3 linked regions of the Homo sapiens genome follow. The protein of the gene in region 1 purifies or fractionates together with the protein of each later gene. This does not show direct contact. Each region holds a gene or a part of one and is shown in the gene's direction. Other genes may lie near its edges.

Region 1 (3,658 bases):
AGCCAAGATTGTGCCACTGCACTCCAGCCTGGGCGACAGAGCAAGACTCTGTCTTAAAAAAAAAAAAATGTATTGAGGTTTCTTTTATCACCTAGTATGGTCTATATCCTGGAAAATGTTTCATGTGTACTTCAGAAGTATGTATAGTTCGTTGTTGGGTGGAGTGTTCTATAGACACCTATTAGGTCTAGTTGGTTAGAGTGTTGTTCAAGTCTTTTATTTCCTTGTTGATCCTCTGTCTAGTTGTTCTACCATTAAAAGTGAGGTACTGTAGTCTCCTACTATTATTATTGAATTGTCTAATTCTCCCTTCATTTCTGTCAGTTGTTGCTTTGTGTATTTTGGTGCCTTATTATTAGGTACATATGTGTTTTTAATTGTTATCATTTCCTGGCAGATTAACCCTTTTATCATTAAGAAATATCCCTATCTCTAGTAATATTTTTTGCTTTAAAGTCTGTTTTGTAAGCTATTAACATAGCCACTCCACCTTTCTTGTAGTTGCTGTTTGCAAGATCATCTTTTTCCATCCTTTTACTTTTCATTTATTGTGTCTTTGAATTTAAAGTGCCTCTCCTGCAGACAGAATATATTTGGATCCTGTTTGTTAATCAAGTCTGACAATCTCTGTCTTTTGATTGGACTGCTTTATTCTCTCACATTTATTTTTATTGTCTATATACTGAGAATTACATCTAACTCTATTCTACTTTTGGATGTCTGTATTTCTCAATGTCTATTTTTTCTTCTGTTCTTACTTTATGCTTTCATTTGCATTTAGTCATTAAGTGAATATTTTCTAATGTAGTATTTTTGTGATTGCTTTGGGGTTTATGAACAACTTCAGATTTATATTAGCTTAATTCCAGCAATATTGCTATGGTTTGAATGTTTACCCCCAAAGTTCATGTATTAGACATTTAATTTCCAATGCAACAGTGTTAGGAGATGGGGCCTAATAACAGGTAATTCGATCATGAGGGCAGAGCCCTTATTAATGGTTTAATGTCACTAGCATGGGAGTGGGTTAGTTATAGCAAGAATGAGTTATTAGGCCGGGCGCGGTGGCTCACGCCTGTAATCCCAGCACTTTGGGAGGCCGAGGCAGGCGGATCACAAGGTCAAGAGATCGAGACCATCCTGGCTAACATGGTGAAACCCTGTCTCTACTAAAAATACAAAAAAACAAAAACTTAGCCGGCGGCGGTCACCTGTAGTCCCGGCTACTCCAGAGGCTGAGGTGGAAGAATGGCATGAACCAGGGAGGCAGACCTTGCAGTAAGCTGAGACCACGCTACTGCACTCCAGCTGGGGCAACAGAGTGAGACTGTCTCAAAAAAAAAAAAAAAAGAATGAGTTATTATAAAATAAGTCTGGCAGCTGGTACCTCTCTCTGTATCGTGCCCACTTCTGCCTTCCATCTTCCACCATGAGATGACACTACGCAGATGCCAGCATCATGCTCTTGGACTTCCCAGCCTCCATTACCATGAGACAAATAAACTTCTGTTGTTTATAAATTACCTAGTCTGTGGCATTCTGTTATAGCAGAAAACAGACTAAGACAGATACATAGAAGTATTACTTTTATATAGCTCTATTCCTTTCCTCCTTTTTATAGTATTGTTATACATATTATATCTATTAATGTTATATACCCAACTATACTTGTTACAAGTATTACTTTACTGTCTGTAGTCATTTTCTCAGCACAGCACAATTACGCTCCCACCAATCTTCTTTGTGCTGTTATTGGCAAATATATTACATACATATTACCTTCTTGTAGGTGACATGCCCAACATTATATCATATACATATTATTTTATATAACTGCTTTTTAAATCATTTCAGAGAAAAGAAGAGACAATACTTTTGTACTGGTTTTCAAATAAATAAATGTCCAATATAAATGTGGATTTTTAAAAATAATTACTCAATTACCTTTACTAGTACTCTTTGTTTTTTCATGTAGATTTAAATTACCATCCAGGGATACTTGCCTCAACTTGAAGAACTGTTAGTATTTCTTGTGAGGCGGGTCTATTGACAACAAATTCTCTCAGTTTTGTTTGTCTGAGAAAGTTTTCATTTTACCTTCATTTTTGAAAGATAGCTTTTCTGGATTTTTGGTTAACTATTTTTTGTTGTTTTTTTTTTGTTTTTTGTTTTTTGTTTTTTTGAGATGGAGTCTCACTCTGTCACCCAGGCTGGAGTGCAGTGGCGCAATCTCGGCTCACTGCATCTTCTGTCTCCCATGTTCAAGTGATTCTCCTGCCTCAGCCTCCGAAGCAGCTGGGACTACAGGTGTGTGCCACCACACCCAGCTAATTTTTTGTATTTTTAGTAGAGACAGGGTTTCACTGTGTTAGCCAAGATGGTCTCGATCTCCTGACCTCGTGATCTGCCCGCCTTGGCCTCCCATAGTGCTGGAATTACAGGCATGAGCCACCACGCCCAGCCCTATTTTTTTCTTTGAGTATTTTAAATATATATGTCATTACCTTCTGCCCTCCATTGTTTCTGTGAAGAAATCAGTCATTAATTTTATTGGGGTTCCCCCCTGTAAGTGATAAGTTGTTTTTCTCTTACTCCTTTCATGATTTTCTCTTTGTCTTTTGACCTTCAACATTTTTATTGCAACATGTCTATTTTGTGCATCTCTGTGTTTATTTTCTAATAGTTGGAGGCCATTGAGCTTCCTGCATGTAGAGGTTATTGATTTTTAATGAATCAGAGAAGTTTTCTACCATTATTTCTTTGAATATTTTTTCTGCTCTTTTCTTTCTTTCCTTTCCTTCTGGTATTCTCATTATATGTATATGGTACCCTTGATGGTGTCCCACATTTTTCCAAGGCTCTGTTCACTTTTCTTCATTTATCGTTCTCTCTGTTTTCAGCTTGCATAATCAATGTCAGTCTGTCTTCAAGTTCATCAGTTCTTTCTCTTGCTAGTTCATGTTTATGGTTGAGCTTCTCTAGTGAATTTTTAATTTCAATTAGTATACTTTTCAACTCCAGAATTCCCATTTGGTTCTTTTTATATATATAATTTTTTATCTCTTTATTGATGTTCTCAATTTGATATGACATTGTCATCATACCTTCCTTTACTGCTTTAATTGTGCATTCCTTTATTTCTGTGAACATACTTATAATGACTATTTTGAACTCCTTTTCTGTTAAATCTGACATCTGTTCTCACTCATAGGCAGTTTGTGCTTTTTCTCTCCAGTGTATGGGTTATACTTAAGTGTTTCTTTGCATGCCTTGTGACTTTTTTGTTGTTAACTGAACATTTTGGATAACATACTGTAACAACTCTGGGTACTGATTCTCCCCTTTCAGGGGCTTCTTATTGTTATTTGCTGGTTTAATTTTTAGTGACTGGCTAGAATATTTTAGTGAAGTCTATTTCCCTCCTACGATTTTAAGCCTCTGTTGTTGCTCCTCTGGGAGGTACAGCTTTAGGTATGCCCATGGTTGATTGCTGAATTGTTTTCAACAATGCTCTGGAGAGTAAATTCCTTTACAAACTAATCCAACCAAAGTATGGCTTCTTTGAAGCAATAGTTTCTGAGATCCCAGTTTAATACTCATTCTAATCCCAAAAAGGAACTTCCTAGTGATCTTATTCCTTGGTTTGCTTCCTGCAAAC
Region 2 (3,658 bases), on another chromosome or scaffold:
TGTTAGATCCGGAAGTAATGCTTATCACATCTGCTCATATTTCATTAAAGCAAATCATCTGGCCACACCTAACTTCAAAAGGCTGAGAAAGTATATGACAACTATGTGCCCACAAGGAGAGCCATGATGACTACTACAGTACTATTTTATAATTTATAGGATTGTTATAGAATTCTAAACAGTGTCATTCCTGCCATGTAGAATTTGTAACCAAACTCAAGATGAGAAAGTAGATAATGTTCATAAGATACTAAAGGAGTGTATTTGCACTTAAAAATAAAAAAAGCTTTTTAAGAAGCTCCAAGTAGATCATGGATAGTTATGTTTAAATCTCCATTGATATTCAGGTGATCCTTAAGTGATACCTTTTTTATTAAACTGCATTCTTAATGCTTCCCAAGTAGCTTATATGCCATAATTTGTGGATTTACTTTTAACATTTTCCCCATGCTACCATTAGTTACTATATAGAGACTTACAAAGATTAAATCTGATATTTAAGCCTTGAAAATAATTTTCTAATGTTAGGATTACCAAACCCAGATATACTAAATTGAATGTATGCATAGTCTAATACTGTTTGAGTAGTTCAAGTCTTTATTCTATAACTGACTTTGAGAATTTTAAGTTACACTAACTATAGGACCTCTTCCATGCCAGTGTTTGAGATGTAAGGACACTTCAAGTGTTTGTTGCCCTTGTCCGGTAAGTACGGACTACAATTCCTCATTGCATGCAGAGAAGCCTGGTTTGGTCACAAGTAAAGTCTATCATGGAATAATAAGACTAAGCCTTAAAATAATAAAAGAAAATCCTTTAATGAAAACTGCAGATGTAGTTGAAGGTAAGCATAAGTAATTTGGTCTTGAACATGATTGAAGGGGAAGTGGGGAGGGAATGGCTTCAAACAACTAGAAAAGATCTCCCAAAATGGTTACCAATGTAAAAGTATATATTTGCATTTGGGGCTGACCTTTTTATTATTATTTCCCTTCTCTGTGCCTCCCTTTCCCTTTGCCTTCTCTTCTGCCTTTCTACCAGTGCCATTTAGTATAATGCAGGAAAGGACATTGGACTTGGAGTTAGAAACCTTGTGTTTTGCACTTGCTGCCTGTGACCTTGGATAAATCACTTAACCTCTCTGAGCCTGTTTTCTCTTCTGGAAAAAACCTACTTCATCTACTTGTTCTTCCAGGTTTCTCTCTCCCCTCTCCCTCATTTGTTGTGAGGATCAAGTCTGAGAAGATAGCATTAGTAGAAATTGACAGTACAATTGAAAGTACAGAGATGATAAATTATATATCAGATAAGGTAAATTTTTACTGCTAAATTTCTTTTATACTCTGAACAAATGCTAGTTAAAGCCAAAAAATGTCATTTTAGTAAGTTTTTCGTAGGCTATACCAATAAATTATGTAAGTTATATTTTTTAAATTTATAATATGTCTTAAAATTTATTTAAAATCAGAGCTTTGGAAATGTATTTCCTGGCAAAGAACTAAGCAAGTCTGGAAGAGAATCATTTACAAATGAATCTAATTCCATTGTATGGTACCCAGACAGATAATTCTAAGGTTTCTGTTAACATTCTCCAAAGAGCATGAACATAATTTCAAGCTCCCCAGTTAGGAAAACTTCTGCCTTTCATCTCTAATTTACACCCTCTTCTGGTTTTTTCTTTCAGGTTTACTGAAAGGCCAAATAATAAAACTTTTCATTAAATATTTTTTATTGTCTTGTCTAAAATAAGTGAAAAAAGAGGGGTTTTAGATTTAATTTAACTTCTGTTTTTTAAAATACCTTGTACATGCAGGGAATTCTTCTCCACTCCTAAAAATACACTAGAAATATTCTTATTGGGATTTAGGAAAATAAGGCAGCTTGAGAGAACATTGGTTTAGGGGTCACTAGTTTATAACTGGACAATTTTAGGCTTCGGTTTTCCTCATGTCTAAAATGAGATTTAACTAGGTGGTCTGTCACATTTCTTATATTCTGATTTTTGTCCAAAGAGAGTCCCTAAAATGAGGTAAAAGTAAACCAGATTTCATATTACCAGTTAGATTGACTTTGCAAAATCTTCTCAATTTTGCAAAGTTTATGATATGTTTTATCTTTAGGAGTTTCTTTAAATGTTTTTAACTCCCTATAAAAATCAGTTCACTTGTCTTTTAATAACAACAAACTTGTGTCAGGCACTGTGCAAAAACTACATGTGTCATCTCATTTAATCCATTCTTAATTCCACCGAACAGATAAACAAGTCTATGGAGTTACAAACAACTTATCCAAGGTCTCAAGCCATTATTGTTTGAGACTTCAACGTGCCTATCTCAGTAAGTGGTAGAACAAGTAGACAAAAATCAGCAAGGATATTGTAGAAGATCTGACTACTGTCACCAACCAACAGTATAAGAAAAGAAAATAGGTCACTATGTGTACATGAACATGTATCACTAAATACTTTCAGTGCTTGAAGTTAATACAAGTCAGTGAAGGTAGAACTGAATCTTAGTCATCTTTGCATTATTAATATTGGTTAAAGTACCTAAAACAAAGTGGAATACTTCCTTTTTATTTTATTGAACTAAATTTTTTTCTTATAAACTTGCCATTTTATTGTTTATATCATTGTACTTTCCATATTGTTTTAATTGGGGTTTTCTTCCCTCTTGCCTTTATTCCCAGCATTTTTTTTAATTTTTTTTTTTTTTGAGACAGGGTCTCACTCTGTCGCCCAGGCTGGAGTGCAGTAGAGCAATCTCAGCTCATTGCAACCTCCGCCTCCCAGGCTCAAGTGATCCCCAGTAGCTGGGACGGTAAGTGCACACCACCACGCCTGGCTAGTTTTTTGTATTTTTGGTAGAGACGGGGTTTTACTATGTTGCCCAGGCTGGTCTTGAACTTCTGAGCTGAAGCTGAGCTCAAGCAGTCCACCCACCTCGGCCTCCCAAAGTGCTGGGATTACAGGCATAAGTCACCACAACTGGCCAAACAGCTTTTTATGTAAGGACCCAGTCAACCTCAAGTTGTTTGGCACTTTTGTTTGAAGTACAGTAGATGCTACTTGATTGAAGGCATTAAATGTTTATATGAATACTGATAATGAAACTAAAATCACATAAATGAAGGTGTTTGAAGTATTGTCATAGTAATCCCTAAAGTGAGACAAACAGTATTCTTGCCTTAAAATAGCTACAAGGAGGCCACTTGAACCCTAGAAAGGAAAGCTATTAGTTTTATATTATGCATTTAGGAATACATTGCATTCTTAAATTATTACTTAAAATGTTGAATTAATGTTGTGTACATGAAACATTCTTACTGGGATTTAGTTGATACTCATTAGTCTTTGAAGATAGAATACTAGAATTGATTAATAGAACTAATGGCAATTCCATATTTACTGTAACACCTTAATACAGTATTTTATGTGTTTCTATAAAATGAAAGGAGCTTTTGAATATTCTGTCTAGACTATTCCAAGGGGAAAGGGACCTTATTTTGTATAAAATTATTAATACAACCCCTTCATTCATTCTTATATATCATGAAACGTGAGATGATTTAGGGTTTTTGTTTGTTTTTGTTTTTGTTTTTTTTGAGACGGAGTTTCGCTCTTATTGCCCAGGCTGGAGTGCAGTAGTGTGATCTCTGC
Region 3 (3,658 bases), on another chromosome or scaffold:
ATGGGTAATGAGCTGGAACTGTAGAAATAAATGAGATTGCATAGGATAAAGTAAAAGTAACAGAAGAGAGAGCCAAGTATAAAGTTCCACCAACATGTTAATGGTGGGCAGAGGAAGAAGACTGATAGAAATGGATTTTTCATTATAAAAGCTTATTTTATGAGGTTTTGTTTTGTTTTTTAAATAAAGCAGTCTAAGGATTTGCCTTCTCAAACAGGGATTGCTTAATAGGAATAACAAGGTAGTGGTGAGGGTAGAATTGGAAAAGTGCTGCTCCATAAGATTGACATTTGAAGCACAGGTGTATCTGGCACTATGATGGAGTTGATAGTTGCCATGGGTATACCTCAGGAACACAGCAGCTGTCCAGTATGTATGCCTTAGATCTACCACATGTGTAGAGTGAGTTTTTTTCTCTGTATTTACTCCATTGTCAAATTTAGAAACAGACAGATACATGTGACTCCAACAACAGTAAGTATATTATTCTAGTAACCAAAAAAAACTTTTTCCTAGGGCCTGTCTTATAGACTGAAGGCTGAAATTATTCATAAACTGTAACAAAGAATTTGGTCAATGTCTGCAACCTAAAAATTTGATGTTTTATGATTTTAAAATAAATTGTAAATATTTGGTCTTTTGTTTCAGATATTTTCCAAGTATGGCAAAGTTGTAAAGTAAGTATTCACATTAAATTTTGTAACTTCATTTAAAAGTTTATCTGAATTTGCTTCTACATTTTTTTAATGACAGATTTTTAAAAATAAAACATGCTTGATATAATAAAGAAAATACTATTAACATTTTTATGACAATTTAGTTGGTTTTCCATGTACATAAACATGTAGACAATTTTTCTTAAAGACTATTACATACATACAATTTTCTTTTCTTTTTTAATTTGACATACCATAAATGTCTTTCCATGTGCTATAAAGATACATCCTCATAGCTAATGGTAAACAAATATTTTGGTTACTAGGAAGTGTGTTATCAAGTATACTATAAGTAACCTACTTTCAAATAAATAGGTGGTTTTTTGTTTTGTTTTTTTTCATATAAATAGTGTAAAAACAAATATTTCAGTGCATCTGACTTGCAGGATGCTATGAGTCTTTTAAATAGAAAACATATTATCTTCCTTCAGAGATAGCTTGGAGATCGTTGGAAAGACTAGAAACATGCAAAAATGGTAATGGATGATAACAGGGCTGAGGGTTAGGAACAATAAAAAGAACTTGAACTTCTCGTATTTCACTGTTTTAAATCAAGCAACTATATTATGGGGCAAAAAAGTAACAGGATACTGTCATCCTAACTTTCTTGTAACCAATATAGATTCTGATATAAATTTAAAATCCCAAGAATTTTGAGCATATTTATCTTGGCTAATTTCTTCTAGTGTTCCATAAATGGATATTAAACAGTTGAAGCTCTTTTGCATCTTGAAATTACTAACTTCTTTTACAGTTACTTTGCTATTAAAAAAGCATTATCAAAAATGCTTCTGTGTAAATTTTTGGGTGTTCAGATTTTAAAAAGTCATTGTCATCAGTCCAAACACTGGTAATGATGATGGTATGTGATACTTAAATGAGCACATATATATGCCAGGCATTGTTCTAATCTCTTTATGTGTATTATTTAATTCTCACAACTACCCTTTAAGGTAGGTACTATTATCATCTCAGTATTATACATGATGAAACTGAAGCACACAGTAAACCTAAGGTCATCTTGCTAGCTAGTGGTGGAGAAAATATTTGAATCCAACAGTGAGATTTCAGAGCCCACTCCCTTTTACCTTTTTTCTTTTTCCACTTTGTTAGAATCTCTGAATGGATCTCCATATAAATATATAGTCCTAAACCATGAAACTGCAATGGAGTTAAAGACACGAGAGTTATAAGCACCTAGAAACAGGGAAGACTATCTAGTCTAGAGAGCCAGGGAAGGCTTACCTAGGTCAGTATTTTTTGAGTGGAAACCTAAAGGATGAGTAAGAGTTAAGTAGGCAAAAATAAGGGAGGAATATTTCAGGTAGAGGGAATAGCTTGTGCAAAGGCCCTGTGGCAAGAGAAAATAAAGTGAGATCAAGAAATAGAAAGAAGGCCAATGTGACTGGAGATGAGTGAGTAAGGGGGAGAAAGCACAAGGTGGCTCCAGAGATGGAAGCAGGTTCCTCATCTTACTTCTTGGTCAGGTTACCAAGGTATTTGGTTTTCATTCTAAGAATATCAGGAATCATTTAAGAATTTTAAGTGAGGGGTGACATGATTTAAATTTTTTAAAGTTTATTCTGGCTTAATGTAGAAATTAGATTGGAGGGGAACAAAAGCAAATGCAGCTGGGTGCAGTGGCACACACCTGTAATCCCAGCACTTTGGGAAGCCGATGTGGGAGGATCACTTGAAAGGTCATGAGTTCAAGACCAGCCTGGCCAACATGGAGAAACCCCATCTCTACAAAAAATACAAAAAGTAGCCGGCCCTGGTGGTACACACCTGTAATCCCAGCTGCTTGGGAGGCGAGGCATGAGAATTACTTGAACCCAGGAGGCGGATGGAGGTGGAGGTTGCAGTGAACCAAGATCACACCACTGCACTGCAGCCTGGACAGAGCAAGACCCCATCGCAAAAAAAAGAAAAAAGCAAATGCAGTGAGACCAGTCTGAATCTAAAACTGTAGCCCAGGGGAGAAATGTGTACTAAAATAGTACAGGTGGAGATATAGAGACTGGTCAGATTTGAGAGGTGGTCAGATTTCAGAGATCATTATGAAATAAAGTGGGTAATAGTGATGTGTATAGGAAGCAAAGTGGGTACTATTTAGTGATATGCTTACTTTGCGTATAAGGACTTTGTGAACAAGAAGGAGGTGTTATGGATGACATTCAGGTTTCCCAAAATAGTGTATGCTTCATATTATGTGCTTAAATAAGTACATCATATACCTTATATTAGGAAATGGTGCTATTATCTACCTCTTTTCCCTTGCCAGAAACATGGGAGTCACAGTAGATTTGTCCTTTTAAATCTCTGATGTAATTTTTTTTTTCTGTTACCACAGAAGGTATCTCTATCAAAGTATTGTATGATAGTTGGTTTGTTGGTCTGTCTCTACCACTAAACTGTAAGATTTCTCCTGAGGGTAAAAACTACTGTTAGTGCTTAGCACATGGGCTTGAGGCTAACAGAGTGACTGAGTGACCGAATGAATGAACACACACAATGTACTCTTTTAGAAACTACTTTTCCCATTTTTTTGGTCTGTCTTTCCCATTGAATATAAAGGTATATCTATCAATCAACATATTGAGCTGGGCACATATGGATTACAGAGACAGCCTTAAAGGAGTTTACATTAAAATAGATGAGATGAGGCATTGTTTATGAATAACACAATTCAGCAGAGACTAGCATAACGGAGGAGAAATTATATCCAGTTGAAGCTATTAGAAACTGACACATTGACCTGAACCCCGAAAGAATGAGGAAAATTTTAATGAGCAGTGATTCAGAGGTGGAAGAAGATAGAAGCTGTATGAACAAAGGCACAAATTTGGGGAAATACAGGCCATGCTACTGGAGCATTGAGTGGTTTCTTTTGGGTAGACTTCATAGTGTGTGCGTGGGAAGGAGCAGTGAAAGATGAAGGA

What was found.
Region 2: the proteins of DHX57 (region 1) and MEX3C purify together in Homo sapiens (pull-down; one large-scale study listed by IntAct). This does not show direct contact.
Region 3: the proteins of DHX57 (region 1) and ZCRB1 purify together in Homo sapiens (co-immunoprecipitation; one large-scale study listed by IntAct). This does not show direct contact.

Annotation. Positions count from the first base shown.
Region 1 is NC_000002.12:38,869,403-38,873,060, reverse strand, and holds part of DHX57 (putative ATP-dependent RNA helicase DHX57), read left to right. Parts: intron 1-3,658. UniProt on the Homo sapiens protein: Probable ATP-binding RNA helicase.
Region 2 is NC_000018.10:51,187,654-51,191,311, reverse strand, and holds part of MEX3C (RNA-binding E3 ubiquitin-protein ligase MEX3C), read left to right. Parts: intron 1-3,658. UniProt on the Homo sapiens protein: E3 ubiquitin ligase responsible for the post-transcriptional regulation of common HLA-A allotypes. Binds to the 3' UTR of HLA-A2 mRNA, and regulates its levels by promoting mRNA decay.
Region 3 is NC_000012.12:42,319,437-42,323,094, reverse strand, and holds part of ZCRB1 (zinc finger CCHC-type and RNA-binding motif-containing protein 1), read left to right. Parts: intron 1-648; coding exon 649-677; intron 678-3,658.